Regions from separate parts of the Homo sapiens genome. Here region 1 is linked to region 2. The links come from fine-mapping of genetic effects on gene expression. A gene starts in region 2. The other region holds a variant in brackets. All regions are shown on one strand. Distances are between the middles of the regions. Region 1 holds the start of GPR4 (G protein-coupled receptor 4). Region 2 holds the start of GEMIN7-AS1 (GEMIN7 antisense RNA 1).

What was found. PIP is the estimated chance that this variant, and not a neighbour inherited with it, causes the effect.
Region 1: its variant is fine-mapped to the expression of GEMIN7-AS1 in sigmoid colon (GTEx, PIP above 0.99).

What each region holds. Positions count from the first base shown.
Region 1 is chr19:45,602,034-45,604,940 of GRCh38, reverse strand. GPR4 (G protein-coupled receptor 4) reads left to right here and starts at 2,729. Exons shown (of 2, transcript NM_005282.3): 1 at 2,729-2,846. The variant G/A (reference allele first, on the strand shown) is at 1,801.
Region 2 is chr19:45,089,101-45,092,007 of GRCh38, reverse strand. It overlaps GEMIN7-AS1 (GEMIN7 antisense RNA 1), which reads left to right and starts at 1,617. Exons shown (of 2, transcript NR_134887.1): 1 at 1,617-1,939. It overlaps GEMIN7 (gem nuclear organelle associated protein 7), which reads right to left. Exons shown (of 3, transcript NM_024707.3): 3 at 490-1,901. The coding sequence starts at 1,893. The coding sequence ends at 1,498. RefSeq lists silencers at 274-458, 2,159-2,332 and enhancers at 567-616, 227-1,221, 1,222-2,217.

The DNA.
Region 1 (2,907 bases), 510 kb before region 2:
TGGCCTGCGCAGTAGCTGGGACCACAGGCACGCACCACCCAGCTGGCTAGTTAAAAGAAATTTTTTTTTTGTAGAGACAGAGTCTTGCTATGTTGCCCAGGTTGATCTCAAACTCCTGGCTTCAATTGATCAACCTGCCTTGGCCTCCTAAAGTGATGGGATTACAGGCATGAACCACCATGCCTGGCCTACATTTTAATTTAATTTAAAAATAAACACAAAAGAGCTGGGCGCGATGGCTGATGCCTATAATCCCAGCACTTTGGGAGACCTAGGCAGGCTGATCACCTGAGGTCAGGAGTTCGAGACCAGCCTGGCCAACATGGTGAAAACCTGTCTCTACTAAAAACACAAAAAGTAGCCGGGTGTGGTGGTGTTCACCTGTAGTCCCAGCTACTCGGGAGGCTGAGGCAGGATAATCACTTGAACCTGGGAGGTGGAGGTTGCAGTTAACTGAGATGGCACAATGGCACTCCAGCCTGGGGGACAGAGCAAGACTCTGTCTCAAAAAAACAAAAAACAAGCCAGGTGCCGTGGCTCATGCCTGTAATCCCAGCACTTTGGGAGGCCGTGGCAGGCAGATGACCTGAGGTCAGGAGTTCGAGACCAGCCTGGCCAACATGGTGAAACCCTGTCTCTACTAAAAACAAAAAAATTAGCTGGGTGTGGTGGTGCATGCCTGTATACCCAGCTACCAGAGGCTGAGACAGGAGAATTGCTTGTACCCGGCAGGAGGAGGTTGTATTGAGCTGAGATCATGTCCCTGCACTCCAGCCTGGGCACAGCAAGACTCTGTCTCAAAAAAAAAAAAAAAAATCAAACCTGACAGCTATCATTTTTTAGTGTTATATGCCACATCTATCTGAAGTCCCTTGACCAATAATGAATTCTCATGATTAGTTTATGAAAGATGTGATGTTAATAATAAAAATAAGCTAATGTTTTAGGAGCACTTATCATTCATTTGTTCACTCCCTGAAAACAATGTTTTTTGTTTTTTGTTTTGAGATGGAGTCTTGCTCTGTCACCCAGGCTGGAGTGCAGTGGCGCGGTCTTGGCTCACTGCAAGCTCCGCCTCCCGGGTTCATGCCGTTCTCCTGCCTCAGCCTCCTGATTAGCTGGGACAACAGGCGCCCACCATCACATCTGGCTAATTTTTTTGTATTTTTAGTAGAGATGGGGTTTCACTGTGTTAGCCAGGATGGTCTCCATCTCCTGACCTCGTGATCCGCCTGCCTCAGCCTCCCAAAGTGCTGGGATTACAGGCGTGAGCCACCACGCTCGGCCAGAAAACAATGTGTTTCACACCTATCACCTGCCCAGCAGTCTTCTAGGCAACAGACATGCAACAGTAAACAAGCCAGACACAAAAATGACACTCTTCCTAGTAGGAAGGCAGACAACTAGAAAAAAATAAGAGAATGTTGCCTTCCCCAAAGGGTAGGGGAAAAGTGAGGCAGAGAAAGATGGGGAGTGTTGGGGTCTGGTTGGCATATTTTACAGACTTGATAGCATTGACACCATTAAATGAGACCGCCAGGAGAAAAGGACCATGATGGCCGGCCTCGGTGGCTCAGGCTTATAATCCCAGCACTTTGGGAGGCCAAAGCAGAAGGATGGCTTGAGCCCAGGAGTTTGAGACCAGCCTAGACAACATAGTGAGACCCCTGTCTATAGAAAAAAAAAATTTTTTAAATTGGCCAGGTGTGGTGGCACACGCCTGTAGTCCCAGCAACTCAGGAGGCTGAGGTGGGAGGATCACTTGAGCCTGGAAGGTTGAGGCCGCAGGGAGCCATGATC[G/A]TGCCACTGAACTCCAGACTGGGCAAGAGAGTGAAAACCTGTCTCAAAAAAAGAAAAAAGGTGGGGCACGGTGGCTCACGCCTGTAATCCCAACACTTTTTGGAGGCCGAGGTGGGCAGATAGCTGGAGCTTAGGAGTTCGAGACCAGCCTGGCCAACTTGGTGAAACCCCGTCTCTATTAAAAATACAAAAATTAGCCGGGCGTGGTGGTGTGTGCCTGTAATCCCAGCTACTCGGGAGGCTGAGGCAGGAGAATCGCTTGAACCTGGAAGGCAGAGATTGCAGTGAGCCAAGATTGTGCCACTGCACTCCAGTCTGGGCAACAGAGCATGACTCTGTCTCGAAAGAAAAGAAAGAAAAAAGCAAAGCAAAGCAAAGCAAAGAAAAGAAGGAAGCAAGCAGGCACCATGAGTGACCACCTTGATTCAAAGAGGAAACTGAGGCACGGAGATGTCACTAGCCTAAGGTCTGACCAAGAGTCAGGCTGGAAATGCAACCCCAGAGCTCCTTCTAGGGGTGGCCCTGACTTTGGAGTTGGGGACCTAACAGAACCCTTTATTCTCTCCGTTGTTGGGGAGGAAGATGCAGAAGGTTAATGACCAGAGGATGAATGACTGAAGCCTGGGGTCTCTAAGGGAGGAAATGGCTTAACCCAGGGAAGGTCAGTAGCGGGGGCCTCCTCTTCCCATAGCCGAGGACCTGATAAATTTGGGGGTGTGTGGTTGGAGAGAGGGGACCTTCCAGCTGGGGACTTGGAAGGATTCGGGGGTGTTCCAGTAGCAGATGAGCCTCACCCGTGGCTGGAGGCGTTTAATGGGGTGAAGCCTGAAAGGGGTTAAGGGGCAGCGGCAAAGGTGGGGTTAATGGGGGCGGGCCTGGCCGGGGCGGGGCCTCGGCTGGCGGCTCTGGCCCGGGGGCCGGGAGGAGTAGCCGCTGTTCTGCCCCGCGGGGGCATCCGCTGGGTCCCCGCGCCGTTGTCAAGACCGGGGACCTGGACGCAGCGGAGAGAGGTGCCGCCGCCCGCCCCGTCCAGTCGCCGCGCGCAGGTAAGTGCCGGGTCCTCCCCGGCTGCCCGCGATGCTGCGGGGTCTCACTAGGTTGCCCTGC
Region 2 (2,907 bases):
GCTGCAGTTACATCAACAGCTCTCTGTATCGGGGTAGAGTTGCATAAAATACAACTTAAATTACAATGCTAAAATAAATATGAGCCCATGAGCGGTATCATAGGCCTGATTTTAAAAAACAAAACCTAGGAGAAGGTAGAAATTCCAAAGGCGAGAGACGAATCTGCCAACCTAAATCCTGGGTGACAAGGCTGGTGGATCACCGAGGCAAGAAAGAACCAGCGTGAGCTCAAGCCACACCCCTAGGCTCAGACCCAACGCTTGACATTCGCCGCCGCACTTTCGCCACGCTTGCCGAAGCGCACCCGGCTAACTAGAGGAGGCGGGGCTGAAACCATAAAAGGGAACTGGGGCGGAGCGAGCTGCGTCGTCGCCAAGGCAACTCGAGAGCTAAGTCCGGGCCTCGGCGGAGCCGGCGCTGCGAATGGACTGATGGCCGCTGAGGCTGCTCCTGGCGCGGTTCATCATCGGCCGCCGCACTTTCGCGACTGAGACGAAACGACACTCACCTTTACTTAATGGAAGGCTTCGCTTACATCCTGAACTTAAAGGAACTACAGAAAGGGACAGAAACTGCTTTCTTTTTAAACAATGCGCTGAAAGGTTACTAGTGATAGGAGGCTTAGTGAAGCGCGTGATGTGAACGGCCACGCTGCAAGGCTGGAGAGAAAAGAGGAGGGAGTGAAGTTGCACCCTGATCGCGAATCCTCGGCCTTTTATCAGGGGCGCCGCCACTCGGGGTCCGACCATTCGCCTCCAACGAGGGGACAGCGAATCTGCTGTCGTGTGCAGTCCACAGCAACCACAGGTGGGGCAACAGGAGGAGCGCTTGGGCACGACCACGTGACCCAGCACGAGCCACCGCCCGCCCCAAAATGAAATCAAATCCTAATCTCCCAATCCCGGCATGCCGGTCACTCCAGCCTTTCCAGGAGACTTGCGGCCGTGCAGCCCCTACACCTTTATCTGGACTCCTGTCGTACTTGGCCCAGCTCCACTGGATTCAGCCCTTGGATAACCACCCTACCAGCCCCTAAAGATGACTCCATCCCCGTCGGTATAGTTAATTAAAGAAAAACAGGAGTCGAATTTTCCTGGGGTAACTGGTTCTTTAGCAGGAGGGGAGCACTGGGGAGTATCTTCAGGGTGGCTGGACTTTGCAGCCTCTTTAATAACTTCCCCCTGTGCAGGTTGTATCCTTTATCACCCCACCCCGATGCCCCGGTCTTCAGGAAATGGCAGCAGGCCCATATTTCTGTAGGGTTCAGAGTTCTGTGAGGTAGAGCATTCCTTCCAATGGGATCTTAGAATTCCTAGAGTTGCAGAATTTTACTGACTAGACCCAGGAGGTCTCAGGAGTCCAGACTTGCTTAAAGCTTGGCTCAAAATTCCAAGGGAGCTCATAACTCCATGGGGCCCAGAGTTCCTGGCTCGGGAACATTGGGAGGCCTGGGATACAGTGCCTTAGCCTCAAGCAGAAAAGTGAACACAATATCTTTATGGCTTGAAGGTATATGAAATAATGTCACTACATCGGAGCAGCGCCTCTGCTTGCACACCTATGGGAGTCTGCAGCTGTGACACGTAGAAGTTGGCCACATCCAGGTCGGTGGCTCCAAAGTGGGCGGCCACACGCACACCCTCGTGCAACGTGAAGCTCACCTGATGACCCACCATGGCCAGCAGGCTGCGGAGGTAACGCTCCCGAAGGGCGGCTCGTGCCCGCTGCTCCTGGGATTCCAGGGATTCTTGAGCTATGGGACACTCCTGGATTTCAGGAACCTCTGGCCTCAAGGGGGCTCTGCGTCCATCAGGGGCAAAGCCACGGCTGAAGCCATCAGGGCCCCGGGGCAGCCGGAGCACAGGCACGGGAATGTTCACTGGAGTTTGCATTGTCTTGGCTGTTGAGTGAAGAAAAAGAGCAGGAAGTCATTACATGGTAAGCATGGGGCTAATGGAGGAGGGAGGAGTGGAAGCAGAGGCTGGTCTACCAGGCAGCTCCACTGCACCTGCCCCAGACTGATCCACCCTCCTAAAATCTGTGCCATCGTCCCCCAATGGCTTGGATCAGAAACAAAAGTGTCACATGCACAAAAACATGAGCCCCGTGAAGGCAAGGACCTTTGTCTGCTTTTATAATGTTTTTATCTCAACTTATAGGCAATAAATATTTGCCAAAAGATGAACCTGGCCAGGCATGGTGGCTCATGCCTGTAATCCCAGCCCTTTGGGAGGCCAAGGCAGGAGGATCACTTTGAAGCTGGGAGTTTGAGACCAGCCTGGGCAATATAGCGAGACCCCATTTCTAAAAATATATATATATATTTTACATTAGCTGGGCTACTCAGGAGGCTGAGGGAGAAGGATTAGTTGAGCCCAGGAGATGGAGGCTGCAGTGAGCTGTAATTGTGCAACTGCACTCCAGCTTGGGTGACAGAGTGAGACACTGTCTCTAAAAAAAAGAATAAACCCCAGCTTTCTCTCACACACAACCCACCCAATCCATCAGGAAATTCTATCTTCTAGATAGATTCCCACTCACACATGAGCTAGCTTGAAAGGGCTCCCAGTGGCCAAATCTGGAATTATTTGAACAATACAATAATGATAGTTACAGATTATAACCCACTGGATAAAACAGAAATCCAGAATCCATACCAATAATAAATAAATGAATAAATAAGGAAGAGAAGGAAAATATAATCCTTACTGTAGACTGGCAAGTAAATAAATATAAAAGGAATAGATGCAAAAATGTGTGGATAGGGCCGGGTGCGGTGGCTCACACCTGTAATCCCAACACTTTGGGAGGCCAAGGTGGGCGAATCACTTGAGGTCAGGAATTCGAGACCAGCCTGGTCAACATGGCGAAACCCCGCCTCTACCAAAAATACAAAAATTAGCCGG